Linked DNA regions of Homo sapiens: region 1 is linked to region 2. Evidence: fine-mapped expression QTL. Tissue or cell type: whole blood. Region 2 holds a variant in brackets; the other region holds the start of a gene. All regions are shown on one strand. Distances are between the middles of the regions.

Evidence for each region. PIP is the estimated chance that this variant, and not a neighbour inherited with it, causes the effect.
Region 1: it holds the start of FNTB, and the variant in region 2 is fine-mapped to the expression of FNTB in whole blood (TOPMed, PIP above 0.99).

What each region holds. Positions count from the first base shown.
Region 1 is chr14:64,981,976-64,990,068 of GRCh38, forward strand. It overlaps FNTB (farnesyltransferase, CAAX box, subunit beta), which reads left to right and starts at 4,920. Exons shown (of 12, transcript NM_002028.4): 1 at 4,920-5,122. The coding sequence starts at 4,979. The region is part of intron 3 of CHURC1-FNTB (CHURC1-FNTB readthrough); the gene reads left to right. LOC107984655 (a long non-coding RNA gene) reads right to left here and starts at 5,138. Exons shown (of 2, transcript XR_001750792.2): 1 at 4,705-5,138; 2 at 3,564-4,624. RefSeq lists an enhancer at 1-49.
Region 2 is chr14:64,879,207-64,887,308 of GRCh38, forward strand. It overlaps SPTB (spectrin beta, erythrocytic), which reads right to left and starts at 701. Exons shown (of 36, transcript NM_001355436.2): 1 at 586-701. LOC105370534 (a long non-coding RNA gene) reads right to left here. Exons shown (of 3, transcript XR_943942.3): 2 at 6,717-6,784; 3 at 1,675-2,182. RefSeq lists silencers at 812-981, 1,032-1,171, 1,242-1,321. The variant G/A (reference allele first, on the strand shown) is at 3,040.

The sequences.
Region 1 (8,093 bases), 100 kb after region 2:
AGAAATAAAGTCCAACATCAAGGCACCTGCAGATTCGGTGTCTGGTGAGGGCCTGCTTCCTGGCTCATAGGTGATGCCTTCTCTATGTGTCCTTATATGGCAGAAGGAGTGAGGGAGCTCTGTGGGGTCTCTTTTATAAGGACATGAATCCCATTTATGGCAGCTCGGCCCTCATGACCCAAACACCTACCAAAGGCTCCACCTTCAAACACCTTCATATTGGGGATTAGGTTTCAACATATGACTACTGGGGGCACCTAAACATTCAGTCTATAGCAAGTTTGTATTAGGGTACAGGGGGACAAGAGTGAAAAGAGGGAGAACAGTTAAGAGATTAGTGTAAGAATCCAAGTAACAGATGATGGTGGCTTGGACCAGGACACTGGCAGTGGGATTGGTAAGCAGTGATCAGATGCTAGATATATTTAGAACAGAACTTACAAGGAGTGAGAAAAAGAGAGGCAGCAAGAATGATTCCAAGGTATTTGGAGTAACTGGAAGGATGGAGTTATCATAATAGAGATCGGGGAGACTGAGTGCACAAGTTTGGAAGGGAAGACCAGCAGCTCTGTTGTGGATATGTTAAGTTTGAGATGCCTATTGGAGATCTAAGTGGAAATGCAAATAGACATTAGACATGAACTCTGGAGTTCAGGAGAGATCCAGGTTGGAGATACAAATTAGGGAGTTTTCAACCTATAAGTGTTATTTAAAACATTGAGACTGCCTGAGCTGACAGGGAAGTTAGTGCAGACAGATAAGAAGTCTGAGGACTGAATCCTGGGGTACCCCAAGCTAAGGTATCCAAGATATTAGAAAGGCAAGGAAGGAGGAAAACCAGTGTGAGGCACCACAAGGACAATGTGTTTCAAGAAGGGAAATGATCAACTGTGCAAATATTGCTGGGAAGTCAAGAAGGAAGACTTGAGATCAGGACTGAGACCTGGCCCTTGGATTTGGCGATATGGAATTTAATGGAGAGTTGATAAGAAACGATTGGAAAACCTGATTAGAATGGGCTTGAGAGAGTTGGAAGAGAGGACCTGGAGACGTTAGTAGTAGCAAATCTTTCAAGGGTCTCCGCCAATGAGTCATCGGGAGGTAGCTGGAGAAGGAGTGGAATCAAGAGGGTTAGAGATGCACCCCCCCCCACCCCCTCATAGCCAGGCGCGGTGGCTCATGCCTGTAATCCCAGGACTTTGGGAGGCCGAGGCGGGCGGATCACGAGGTCAGGAGATCGAGACCATCCTGGCTAACACGGTGAAACACCGTCTCTACTAAAAAAAAAAAAAAAAAAAAAAAAATTAGCCGGGCGTGGTGGCGGGCGCCTGTAGTCCCAGCTACTTGGGAGGCTGAGGCAGGAGAATGGCGTGAAACCGGGAGGTGGAGGTTGCAGTGAGCCGAGATCGCGCCACTGCACTCCAGCCTGGGCGACAGAGCGAGACTCTGTCTCAAAAAAAAAAAAAAAAAAAAAGCCCCTCACCCTCCACGCTGCCAAGAATGAGAAAATGGCATGCTTGAGGGAGATCTGGATGATCAAGTAGAGGAAAAATTTGGTGTTTTAGGAAAGGAAAGGGAGAATTGCGACAGTCTTTGGGGGGTGGCGCGTGAGGGGAGGGAGATGACCTGGTCCTAGGTAGGAGATGGGGCAGTCATTCCATCTAGGGGAATAGGAGGGACAGGACCGCCGAGTAGGAGGGCACAGATGATGGTGGGCAGTAAACTTGGGGAGGAAGTTAATTACCTAGCGGGATAATAGATGAGTTCTTTCCATTTTCCAAATGTTCCAATATGTATTACTACACAGTTTCACAAGATATTAAAGGAAACAATTCATTCCGACATACGGCTTGTATGAGTGAAAACAGGGAGAACGGTGAGAGCAGTTTTAAAACTTACTCCCTAAACGCACTCCAGGGTCGGAAGCGACCTCTAGGGGTTCATTTAGACCATTACTTTTTTCTTTTTCTTGCTCTTAAAAGTATAAAACAGCACGGTCCACATTTAATATTATTTTTAAAGAAACACGATCAGTTTAATTTAGAAAAGAGTATCAGGCATGTGAGTAAAATAAACATAAACCATCTGCAGTCCAAGCTGGAGTTGCTATTATCATGACTAAGAGTTTTCTCTCTAAATATATCATTCTCTATAGCACCATTAATATTTATGTTCATTCTGCTTCTTGAATGAGTGGTTTTATTAAACCAAGAGGAGGGACAACTAGTGGGCTATTTGATCCAGGTCTTCTTGATGCTTACATGGAGTACAAACCCCACATATTTTTCATTGCTGGTTTCACTTGATTTGGTGTTGTCACTGGGTTTCCTCTGCCTGGGATGTTCTCATCCCCTGGATTAATTAACTCACTTCCTCATGGGAGTCTTTCCAGACCTTCCAGGCTACCTTAGGGTCCCCCCATCATGCAAGCTCACACACTCCATGCTTCTTTCTGCCTCATCCCATTTCTCCCAACTGTCATGAAAGAGTCAATTCTGTCATTACTGTTTAATGTTTTTTCTGGTAAGTCATGAGACCCATAATGGCAGAGACTGTGTCTGGCTTGTTCACTGCTGTCTCCTTAGCACTTAGCTCAGTGCCCAGCACTTACCCTGTACTCAATAAACATTAATTGAATGAGAACACACTATCCTGCCGGAGACTCTTGCCCATGTTCCTATTCACATCTTTTGGATCCCACTGCAGAGGAGACTGAATTTCAGAGATGAATTTTTATTTCTAAAATACAGTTTGCAATTGCTTTAGGTGCATCTGTGACAGATGCAACAATTTGTCACAAAACTGTCCCAGCTATTCTTTCAATAGCACAGTCTTCAGGATTGAAGCGTTAAGTTTCCAGCTCTCCTGCAAAGAAACTCTTTGTGACAAAGGCTGAATCCTTAGATATAACCCTGACCTTATCAGACCATTTATTTCCCAAAATATAACTAAGGGAAAGACAGTAAGATGCCAATACAGGGGGCAGTATAATGAGACCATTTCACATTGTGCAGCCTTATCCATGGGTCCTAACCCATACTGTCCCCTTATTTCCAGATTTGGTAATATTCTGGTGCCTCTAGGTCTTAGTTCAGCAACAGTACCACTAAAATGGACATGGTGGTAGTATTTATCCACCTGAGGTCTTTAGGCCAGCCCAGCCTCATCTTTGAAATTTTTGTGAGTGCTTCTATTTACTACCAGAGACTGAGAACAGGGGAATGGCTGGTTGTCAAATGTCACTCTGGTCTATAATCCCTGGATCCTAGACATGTGACATGGAATGGAGTGGGAACAGAGTGAAGTGCTCTGAGCAGGAAGTAAAGCTTGTCTCCAAGTGTACCCGGAATGTCTGTTATCATACCTTCTATAATCTCCTACATACAACTCCCCCAGTTTAATCTCTTGGTATTATAATTTTTGGTGTAGTACTTTTGATGCATGCCCTAAAATAAATTCTCTTCTATTGCTTGTCCAAAGGTAGCAGCGTTTTCCTAAAAATCACAACTTTAAACTTGGTTGTTCTGGAGGCAAGTGTGATGAGTAAGTCCACTCCATAAGAATCAATAAGAATTTCTTTTATTCTAGCTGGGCGTGGTGGTGAGCATCTGTAGTTCCAGATACTCAGGAGGCTGAGGCAGGAGGGTCACTTGAGCCTATGGTTTTTGTTTGTTTTTTTGTTTTGCTTTTTTTTTTTTTTTGAAACAGGGTCTCGCTCTGCCACCCAGGCTGGAGTGCAGTGGCACAATCATAGCTCACTGCAGCCTCGACTTCTTGGGCTCAAGAGATCCTCCCACCTTAGCCTGTCGAGCAGCTGGGACTACAGGCATGCGCCACCACGCCCGGCTAATTTTTTTGATATTTAATAGAGATGAGGTCTTGCTATGTTGCCCAGGATGTTCTAACTCCTCAAGTGATCCTCCTGCCTCAGCCTCCCAAAGTGCTGGGGTTACAGGCGTGAGCCACCGTGCCCAGCACATGTCTTCTAAAAGCTGCTGTTTCTTCCTTTTTCAGGAGTTCTTTCCCATACTGTTCTTCTGGATGACTCCTCGTCATCCTTCGGATCTCAAATGAAAGGTCATTTAGAGAGGCTTGGCCTGACCATACAATTCAATTAGTTTCTTACCCCTTTAGTCTCTCTCATAGACCCTGTTATTTTCCTTCATCTCATTTATCACAAGTCTTCATATATTTATTGCGTTGGATACATTCAATTCTGTCGATTTTCTTAGAATGTAAGGTTTCCAAGGGAAGGGACTTCGTTTTGTTCACTTTTGTATTCCTAGAACCTAGCACAATGCCTGACACATAGCAGGTGTTCCATAAATATCTGCGGACTGACTGTCTATTTCACTTATCCTTGTTCCTTGTACTGCATTTCAGTTCTCGCTACTGCAGTGTAACCTCCAAGAGACAGGAGAAAATCATAATACCCCCCTCCCTCCATCACTGAGTGATACTGAGACGGCGTCCTTGCACGTTTGAGCAGCTGCTGCCTTCTCCTGGGAGGCTGTCAAGTACCCCAAGGTGCACAATAATTCTTTTAGTAATTGCCTGACTGAGGCAAATCAGTAGAGCTGTCAGAAATGCTTTCAAACTTAACATTCATTGGGTTCTTGGGCACCTGAAATTGCAAACAATTGCATTACAATTAAGTGAGAATTAGCAGAATGTTACAGTTCTTTAACAATTTGCGTAACAAACCGAGGCGTCCTACGCCATCTCGCTGAAATGAAATTCGGATGTAGACACCCTTGCGCTTCAGGACTCTACGCTCTTGCAGCAGCTCCTCTGCCCAATGGGGGGCGGCAGCATCTCAGTAACTCACTCGAAAGACGGGTAGGCGGGAGGAGACATTCGCGTTCAAAATCTTTTTGCCTCTATCCGCTCGCCGTAGCGCTTTAGCCCGCTCGAGTTTCAATGCGCGTTGTTGCTTAACGAAGCAGAGTCCTACACACTGTCTGCTGCTCTCCTGATCATGGCTTCTCCGAGTTCTTTCACCTACTATTGCCCTCCATCTTCCTCCCCCGTCTGGTCAGAGCCGCTGTACAGTCTGAGGCCCGAGCACGCGCGAGAGCGGTTGCAGGACGACTCGGTGGAAACAGTCACGTCCATAGAACAGGTGAGGTGGCAGGACTGGGCGAGGCGCCCGCGCGATGTGTTCTGGGAGCGCGAGTCCCGTTCGTAGGGCCGCCCGGGTGCGGAACTCACCGGGGAACTACGACTCCCACAGCGCACCGCGGTGCCTTTCCTCTGGGAAGCTCCGGGCGCCCAGGCTTGGGCTTCGTCGTGGAGCGTTTGCGCGGCCAGCTTGGGGAAGGGTCGTTTCAAGGTTGGGCTTGGAGGAGAGGGCAGTAGCCGAGTCCCCTCTGCCCTAAAGAACGAGAAGAATCGTGTTCTATGCCTGGAGGACAGAGGCAGCCCGTGCGGGTCGGACAGCCCACTCTGTTCTGCCAGTACTTCGGGAGGTTCTGGGGTGCATAGTGCACTTTTCCCAACCTGCCCTCAGCTTCTGGAGGCAGAGAGCAGGGCCAGGCTGCTGTCATGCCGTTTCACGATCTGTTTAATTTTTGACCTACAGTGCCAGGTTTGGGGGCCCGCCTCGTGGGTGGGCATTTTGGTAGTCATTCAGCCATTTGAGCACCAGCTACGTGTCGGACACAATATTAAACGATGGAAGTACAAGGAAATAAAACAGCTCCTGACCAGGAGCCTGGTTGGGGGACAGGCAGGAAAACAGTTTGGAAAGTGATCTAATAGAAAGAATGGATTTTGGACTACTAATCATTCCCTAAGGCCTAGAAGTAGGATCGAACCTATCATTTTGAAAAGTGTTTGGCGAATGAGTATATATTCATATGCCCAAAACCATAGTTTTGTTTTTCTTCTTATTCCCTAATTGGAATTGTTCCCAAGGTTGCTATGTGGAACTGTTTATCCATCTGTCCCTAGGAGAAGTGGTTAGGATAATTCTTAACACTAATAAATGAACATTCTGCTGCTTACTGAAATAAGATCTCTTAGTGAGATCAGTCTCCAGGCTTTACCTTGGAGAGACCTGTTTTGTATTTCCTACTTTAAGTTGGAAGCCTGTACTTTGGCAAAATTAGTAACAATAATTGTTTTATTGTACAGTTATGACTAAATAGAATTATAAATTTATAACAGAAACAAGGGCTTGATACGTGGTTATTCACAAAGTAGCAGAGAAAATATTTTAACTGGAGATTTAAACTTCATGGAATTTAGGGTAGCAAAGGAAATCCTCACCTCTCGAATCTAGCTAATTCTCCAGGTTGGTTTGCCTACCAGTGTGTCCCAGGGAAGGCTGACTGCAAAAGATTGTAAAGAAATTTCCCATTGATGAAAAACCTACAGGATCTTTGCAGAATTCCTAAATGATGGATTGCTGAGTTGATTCAGGTCAAGTGTTTTACTTATTATCTGACCTTAGACTATGGGATTGCCTTTTTTTTTTTTTTTTTTTTTGAGATGGGGTCTCGCCCTGTTGCCAGGCTGGGATGCACTGGCTTACTGCACCCTCCGCCTCCCGGGTTCACGCCATTCGCCTGCCTCAGCCTCCAGAGTAGCTGAGACTACAGGCGCCCACCACCACGCCTGGCTAATTTTTGTATTTTAGTAGAGACAGGTTTCACCATGTGGCCAGGCTGGTTTTGAACTCCTGACCTCCAGTGATCTGCCCTCCTCGGCCTCCTAGAGTGCTGGGATTACAGTCGTGAGCCACTGCTCCTGGTGCGAGTATCTTTCAAATCTAGACCCAACGGTATGGCAGACAGTAAAGAATCTTATATTTCTTTTTCATGTTGTTATTCCAGCACACATTATTAGAGTCTAGGATGAACAGTTTCAGGTAGTAGGATGATAATGTTGTATCTCATTTTTGTGGCCTTCCTCACTGTTTTAATAATCATGTTAGTGACCATTTATTGAGTCTCAGCACAGTGCTAAATGCTCTCCATATGTGGTATCATTCAATCCTTTCACTTTTTATGGATGAGAAGACTGAGGTTTAGAGACCTACCACATTGGTAGGTTAATGATACATTCATCAAAAGTAACAACCTTGTTAGGAGGAGTTGTTTACAGAGGATATACTAGTACTCTTTCAGTTTTAACTAAAGCTTCCATTTACTGATAGCTCAATTTTGTGCCATTGCCAGTAAAAACAAATTGATGGCTGACACCTGTAATCCCAGCACTTTGGGAGTTCGAGGCGGGAAGATCACCTGAGCCCAAGAGACCAACTTGGGCAACATAGCAAGACCCTGTCTCTACCAAAAAAAAAAAAAAAAAAAAAAGTAGCTGAGCGTGGTGGCATGCACCTGTAGTCCCAGCTACTTGGGAAGCTGAGGTGGGTGAATTGTTTTTGAGCTCAGAAGTTCACAGATGAGCCATGATCGAGCCACGGTACTCTAGCCTGGGCAACAGAGTAAAACCCTGTCTCTTAAAACAAAAAACGACTATACTGATTTTGGTACTGGCCTGGGCAACATAGCAAGACCCTGTGTCTATTTAAGATGAAAGCTTTTCAAATTAAAAAAAAAAACAAACAAAAAATAAATGCTTGTTACCTGCTTCCTATCTGATTATCAGAAGACTCGGTTTATTTGTTAAGCAATAATTTGGTAATAGGAGTTAAACCTATAAATAGTGGAAGGAGTCCTTAGCTGTGAGTCGTCTGTTCCATTCGTTGATTCTCATTCATTCAGCAAATACTTGAGCGCCTTCTACGTGCCAGGCACTGTTCTAGACACTCGGCATAAGTTGTTAAACAAAAGAGGCCAAGTTGATGCCTTTATGAAACTGTTTCTAGGCCAATGAGGCAGTCAATTAAAAGAGTTAATATCTATAGCTATCTCAATATAAAATGTTAATTAGAAACGCTGTGGAGAGTAACACCTTGGGATAGAGGGGATAGGGTGTGTCAGGAATGGGTGGGGTGGGAGCAGGGGAGGTCTTCATATAAGGTGTTAAGGGGAACCCTCTGGTGACAACACATGTGATCTGAGACCTGAAGTCTCAGATGAGGGAGGAAGCCATCATGGATCTGGTGCAAGAGTATTCTGGGCAGA
Region 2 (8,102 bases):
CTCGGTCTACACGGGGTCACTCTCTGGGTGGCTCCCAGCACCCGGAGGCCCGGCCCCCTCTGCTGCCCTCACCTGTCCCTCCTGCCTGGGCGCTGGGTGGCCCGAGGAGAGCGCAGCCAAGTTCCCCAGAAGAGGGATATGAGCGGCCACAAGGCTGAGAAGCCGGACAAAAAAAGGCAGAGAGCAGCGCTGCGGTCGGACGGGCTAGAGGCGCAATCCCCTTCGCTCCCAGGCCGGGGTCCTGGAGAAGGCGGACGAGAACACGCACCCCCGTCACCCTCTCCCTGCGCCCCGGGGTGACGGACTCTCCGGGATCCCGCTCTCCAAAGCTAGCACCAAGTGCCTCGGACGCCCGCGCGCGTTCCCGCGTCCCGGGATGATCTTTGCCGCAGCTGCCGGGCTTCCCGGGCCCCGCACCCCTCCCACCCCACGCCCGACAACCGGGGCTGGACTCCCACCCGGTCCTCTGGGCCCTGCGCGTCAGGCGCCCCCTGGGCCCAGCGCTCCTTTGAGCTGGCGCCGCGCGTCCCAGCCTTGCGCACCCGCACCCAGCTCCCTTGGCCGCCGGGCCCTCCTGGGACTCACCTGCCCTGGGACTGAAGCGGGGGCCACCCCGAGCCCGGGGGTGGCGGCGGCGGCGGCGCAGGGGGAGGAGGGCAGCGCGGGGCTCCTGGCACAGCGGCCGCCGGGCGCCTGGTGCTGCCGAGCCGCGGACCCGCCCAGAGATATAAATAACATTATCTGAGGAGGGACATTCCTGCCGGGGGACATCGCTGCTGCCGGGACCAGATAGTCCCGCGGCGGGGGCGGGGAGGCGGGGCCGCAGCCTCCCGCAGCGCCAAGCCCAGCCCCCGCCTTCCCCACCCACTCACGCACCTGCCAATCAGCCTCCGCGCCTGGGGGCACCTGCCGGGCCTCAGCCCGGCTCCTGGAACCCGCCTCTGCCTCCCCGCCCGCCGCTGAGCCTGGGGCGCCTCCATCGTCGTTCATTGCCCCTAACCCCGCGCCACCCCGAGCCCCCTGAGGCGGGAAGGGGGTTGGACTCTAGCTCGGGCCTAATTCGTGCGCCCGGAGAGGCAAGCCTGGTGGCGAAAATGAGCCCTCCAGCCTTTCCCGCCCTGCATCCCCACTGCACACAGTTCAGTTTTTAAAATATATGAAAAGACATTTAGGCCATAGGGTGGGCGCGGCGGGTACCCGGGAGGTGAACCCCCGCCGTGGCGGGTTTGGGAGGGACAGATTGTTCCCGGGGGCTGGTGCATTAGAAAGCGCGCTCCCGGGCGGGCTTCTCTCGGCTGGCGGTGGGAGGGCAGGGGGCGGGCACTGGGCCCGAGGGCCCCACCCCCAGCCCGAGCTCAGTGTCGCTGTTTCTGCCCGAAAACCTAGTGTAATCAGGACGAACCAGGCAAAGCTGGCGGCGCGCAGCCTGCAGTCCCAAGGAGCTCGCACATTGTAGGGACTGTAATCAACAGGCAGGCTGCCACACCTGCCCACTGGCACCTCCTGGCCGGCCCGGGTCTCCGGGCGAGTGGGGGTGCCTCACTACAAGCCTGGATGAGGCGCGGCGCAGCAGGCCAGAGGAAATACTAGAACCGATGGTGCCAAAAAGGCATCTCCGAGTTGCCCCCGGAGAGAAACTCAATAGAACACCGGCAGCTTGCAAGGCAGTACATTTTCTTGACTTTCTAACGATCAAGGTCATTGTTCAGTAAGGTTTACGTGTACGCCTTGAGGTAGCTTTCATCTCTTTTCTCCACCTGCGGTGCCTGGGATGATTTCTCACCAGCTATCAACGCAGGTAATCTCAGGTATTATGGAAATGGCCGTGGAGATTAAAAGCGCATAGATGCAGAAGAAGTTTTAACTTTTACTGATGCTGCCTGGTGTTCTTAACAAGGGAACAGTCTTACTCCTGAGTTATTTGCTTGGGATTATAATTGTGCTGTTTTCCAGAATTCACCCAGGAAAGGGGTGTTTGCCAGATGTTCGAGTTTAGTTTATATATTGAACATATGCAAAGATACTTCACTTCCTGCTGCAGTCCCACTTCTTGAGGGTGGGTATTTAGACACTGAGATGTGCTGAGTGGGACAAACGCCCCAGGTATTACAGAGCCACAGAATTCTTCACTCCACCCTCCTCTTGGCTGGATCCTTATTACAGCTCAATTTTCCAAGAGACACTAGTAATATGGGAAAGAGGATACAAAAACATTCATGGTCATCGATAGATTCGCAGTGATCCCCTCCTCCCCTTTGTTGACAACATTTAAGAATGCATTTTTCTATTACTGAGTTAAAAAGAGAAAGTTCTGTTTTGTGAAAAAAAATGTTTAAAAGTCAAATTCTGGCAAGGAAAGCTCAAGAAAAACAGGCCAACTTCAAAAGCTGAGACTATTATATATCTCAAGAAGAAATCCTTCATCTATTTTTGTTAGAAAAAAATGGAGGGAAATTATGTATTTATGGTTTTTTAAAAGCTTGTATGAATAAACTTATTAGATAAATTCATGGTTCTCTAGAATGGTGGTTCTGCAGCTACGTAATTATATACTATGCAAGCCAGATAATTCCTTAGCTATAGGTCTGTGGCACTGAACTGAATAGTTGCATACATATTTTTCTTTGTAGCCTTAAAATTTATAATTTTCAACCATAAGAAAAAATTAATATGATAAAACTCCAAATCAGCAGACAGATTACCCCAACATTTTACAAACCAGCTCAGCTGCTTTAGTTATCTCCACTTTAGCTGAAAGCTAAATAATTCAATACAACCTCATTTGCTACAGAGCATGTTATCCTGACAGCATCCCCAAATGCTTTACAGCTAATAGAGTTACAGTGAAATGATAAATCAGAACTGAGGAAGAGAGGAAATTTAGGCTTGCAGTGAGGAAAGGGCATTGTCAAATAATAGGGAAAGGGGAACAGATCTCTGTGGCCAGGAATGAGAAATTGGGAGAATAAAAGAAGGGAGAAAGGTTGGGCATGGTGACTCACACCTGTAATCCCAGTACTTTGGGAGGCCGAGGCAGGC[G/A]GATCACTTGAGGTCAGGAGTTCAAGACAAGCCTGGCCAACATGGCAAAACCCTATCTCTACTAAAAACACAAAAATTAGCTGGGTGTGGTGGTGCGCACCTGTAATCCCAGCTACTTGGGAAGCTGAGGCAGGAGAATCACTTGAACCTGGGAGGCATAGGCTGCAGTGAGCCAAGATCACGCCACTGCACTCCCACCTGGGTGACAAAGCAAGACTCTGTTTCAAAAAAAAAAAAAAAAAAAGAAGGGAGAAGGAAACACATACATATGTTCGTTATCAAGGTCATCATTGTGGGCAATAGGGATCACGTCTGGAGGGACCTCCTCAGAAGAGTATAGAATACCTCTTGGAATTGTCTATGTGAAGGATAGGAGATTAACCCTCATCCTGGTTGGACAAAGGACTGCCCCCACTGGTCTCCCACCCATGTTGAAAACCTACACTTCCGAGCTACCCAGCAAGCTCCACATAGGCAGTCTGCAGATTTGGAAGAGTTCTGGGGCCAGAAGAGAAGGTGTGCATTTGAGAATAGATGTTGACAGCCAGAGAGTGGGGGGTAAACCTTCACAGAACTGTCTACTCAGGTCTAGCTGAAACCAACAGGTGAGGCCAAGAAGATATAAGTTGAGACTTATGTTAGAATCATCTAACATAAGAGGGAACTTTCACTTTCCATTTCTGTAGTCTTTGAGTTTTTCACAATAAGCTTGTATTGTTTAATAATAAGTAGAGATGATAAATAAATTAAAAAGTAAAGATTGGATGGAGATGGTGGATTGAATACACGCATTTAGCTTCTCTTCTACCCCAAATTTCATTAGAAGATATGTCTGAAACAGGCATCTAAAAGCACAGGAAAATAAGGAAAAGGGGATCAGTGTTCCAACAATGTTCAAGAAATCCAGAGATACAGAAAAGATGCAAGATCTGATTCACAGAGAAACAAAATCAGAGGAAACCAAAACAGATTCAGGAGGAGCAATAGTTTAGGGAAGTTGCAAGCAATAGTTAAAGGATACAAGAGGAGGAGGGGCCCTGAGACAGAATAATTCACTTAGGAGCCTCCTCTGTCCTGCTCACATTAAATATCAGGTGTTTGCCTGCAGGACTTAAAAAAAAAGTTAATGGGGATCCTGGGACCCAAGGGGCAGAGCTCAGGGATCTAGTGACCCCAAGAAATGACAGAAACCATTCACTCTCTTGGGATAGCATGTCCTGACCCTTCTTCACAGCCCCTGAAGATAGGCTATGATAAGCAGAAAGAGGAGACAAGCCCATTCCCACATTAAGGGATGATAGGACAACCACCAAATATCTTATGGGGAGAGGGGAACCAATACCATGAAAGAGAAGCACCAAACCCAACTAATAGAAGGAAATAATATCAGAGGAAACTAAGTTAATAAAAGGAACAAGATAAATGTTAAATAATTTAATTTTAATCAGCAAGTCTTGAAAGGATATTGCATCCACAACAAATAATCAGTGAGAAACCTTAGAAATTTAAAAAGTCATTTCTGATATTGAAAATTCATTAGTTGAGAAGCAGAACAGACCTACTTGAAGGGCAAATTAGTGGAAACAGAAGCCAAAGAAATTTTCCCCAAACACCGGGCAAAAGACAAAGGAGATGGAAAGTATGTGAAAATGGTTGAAAGCCATGTAGGCAAAATCCCCCAAGGTCCAGTATTTGCTTAATGGAAGTTACAAAAGGAAAGAAAAGAGAGTAGAAGAAGGTAATAATGGGAAAGTAGAATAGAAATTCTCAGAGTTGAAGAAAAGCATAAATTTTCAGATTATAAAAACCAACTGAGTTGCCAGCCAGATGATTTTTAAATATAGTTCACAGTTTTATGAACAGTTTTAAAGTTTATGATTTTATTTATAAAACCCAAGACATTGAATAAAAATAAGTCATAAACCAAAAACTATAATAAGCTACACCAACTTGCTTGGCCTTGAATTAAATTGATCCTAAAAATATTTTGAGCTGGATGCGATGGCTCATGCCTGTAATCCCAGCACTTTGGGAGGCTGAGGTGGGAGGATCACCTGAGCCTAGGAGTTCGAAGCAGCAGTGAGCTATGATCACGCCACTGTACTCCAGCTTGGGTGACAGAGCAAGACCCTATCTAAAACAAAAATAAAAACAAAAACAAAAAACTGAATCACATAACCAAAGTTATTTGTGTGAAATAAATGAACCACTTGAATTCAGAAATGAATATATATGTAGGAAAGCTACGGAAAAACGTAAATACCAAACCAAACAAACCTGAAGTTCCACTCAACTCAAACTCAAATCCCCGCCAACAACAATGGAGGTATCAAGAACTCATGATAATGTTCAGAAATCATCAGAATACTGCCCATAGCTCAAAAATCATTATTTCCCTTCTTTACCCTTTTGCAAAGACATGCATTTCATAAAATTAAGGTGAAATTTCCATTTCATTTTTGGAAACATCTAGAGGCATCACATTCTCCACAACTTTCAAAGACAAAGCAGCAGCAGGACCAATTGGAAAAGCCTGCCATTTACAATATGGAGGAATCAAGGATTAGGGACCAAACTTGCCCTTCAGATGCCTCAAACAGAATGGTTGTGGAAGGAACTTGAAAGCCTGCAGCAAGTTTGCAAATACCAGATGAACCATCTTCTGAAGGGGCAGATGACACCAATTTCAAATTTCCCTCCACCAATAACAGGAAAAAGCAAAACAAGATTTGTATCCTGTCATCTGCTAGTCCATGGAAGCATTAACCAGGCTTGGAAATTAATGAGCATCTTTTCTTTTCTTTTTTTTTTTTTTGAGGTGGAGTCTTGCTCTGTTGCCCAGGCTGGAATGCAGTGGCTCACTGCAACCTCCACCTCCTGGGTTCAAGTGATTTTCCCACCTCAGCCTCCTGAGTAGCTGGGATTACAGGCATGCGCCACCATGCCCAGCTAATTTTTGTATTTTTAGTAGAGACGGGGTTTCACCATGTTGGTCAGGCTAGTCTCGAACTCCTGACCTCGTGATCCACCTGCCTTGGCCTCTCAAAGTGCTAGGATTACAGGTGTGAGCCACCATGCCTGGCTGCATCTTTTCTTATATTGCAGTTCCTGATCTTTCCTTGCCACACAGGATTAGGTTTTTTGTCACCTCACATGAGCTTGAGTAGATGTAATGGCAGACTTACACTGGGGTATCTGATGAACTGGGACCTGTAGGTGCTAATTCACCTTGTTCCCAAGGCTGTATTAATTTGCTAGGGCTCCCATGACAAAGTACCATATGCTGGGTGACTCAAACACAAAAATTAATTTTCTTACAGTACTAGGGTCTAGAAGTCCAAGATCAAGGTTTCGGCAGGGTTGATTTCTTCTGAAGCCTCTCTCCTTGGCTTGTAGAGGGCTATCTTTTCCCTCTGTCTTCACATAGTCTCCACTTTGTGTGCACCTATGTCCTACTCTCTTTTTTTTTTTTATGGACATGAGTTATATTTGGTTAGGGCCCATCCATATGACCTCAGTTTTACTTTCACTACCTCTGTAAAGCCTTATCTCCAAATACAGTCACTTTCTGAGGCATTGAGATCTAAGACTTCAACATGTGAATTTAGGGGGATACAATTAAGTCCATCACACAGCCTCATCTTTTCTCACAATGAATTGCTTCTGGAGCCTCTTACCTGTTCATCCGTTCTCCAGTTTCCCTCTCCTTCAATTCTGCTTCCACATAGTAGCCAAAGTACACTTTCTAAAAAGGAAGGTTGGTCTTGTCACTCTGCTTCTTTAAATCAGCCAGTGGCTCCCCATTGCTTTCAGGATATAGTTTTAAGATTCCTGGCACTTAGCATAGTATCTGACACAAAAGATATACTTAATAAAGGCCTAATGAGCAAATGAGTAAATAAATGAATGAACACATTATGGAAATTAAAGGAGGTTGCAATCTTGGAGATCAACCAAAGAACAGGTAATTCAAAAAGTCATTTCTATTTGGCTTAAAAATGCATATTTGTGATTTTTTTCAGGAGATTAACTTTCCTATCTATGTTCGAATAAGGTTATTTAAATGAATTCACATTCCCTGAAACATAGCTGGCAATATTTGTGCCTGAATTTCACCAGGTCCTCAGCTACCCTGATGCATCCATACCTAACTTATTGTCAATGGGTGAGAAATGGAGTGAATCGAGTAGGTTTTATGCTCACAGTTACCACTGAGCTCATCTATGGAGGCAGGGGTCTGCCATCTTCCAACGTCTTTATAACAAGGGATAGCAAACACAATAATGATGATTCGGTTAGCTTTTGTCTCTGTCTGCTCCACCCTCTCAGTGTCATTTTCAGTCCTCATCCTTGGGCAATGGCCCTGCTCCAACTCCCATACTCCAATATGCCAAAGCCTTGAGTACACAGGATTAAGAACATAGGAAGATGAATCCAAACGCATTATAAGGAGTGAGTTAATGTTGTTTTGATATTAACACTCTACCTTGAGTACTCCAGACAGTGGGTAGTCTGCAAGTAGACAACTGAGAGTAACTAACCATGAAAACTTTGTTCTCTTCCTTTATTAATATTTATCAAGCCAGAAACTCAAATCAAGGGTAGAAAATATAATTTTAAAAAATCAAATTTGTTAATATGGAATGACAGCTGGAGTTCTAACAGTTTAACCAATAAAACAATTTTGTGTTTATATGATAATTACTGCCAGCATAAATGGTCTTGTTAATTGCTTTTATTTGTTAGTGAGCAGTTTCCAAATTCACAAATATTTGTTCTTAATATTAACCAAGACCTTTGGGAAATTTTCAATAAAGTTTGGAAAGACATTGCAATAAAAGACTCCATTACTTCTGCAAATTCATCTCATTTTCTTTTCTATTGGATATTTCTACAGCTGCTCAATTTCTGTTTGGATATTTCTTCAATGATTTAAGGTCTGGTCTACAAGAAACTATGATTCAATTCAAACATATGTTTTATAGAATTCATACAGAATATAACTGGGTCTTCTCAGAAATATCATTTTCCTCATTTTTTTGGTATGAAAAATTCTATTTTTA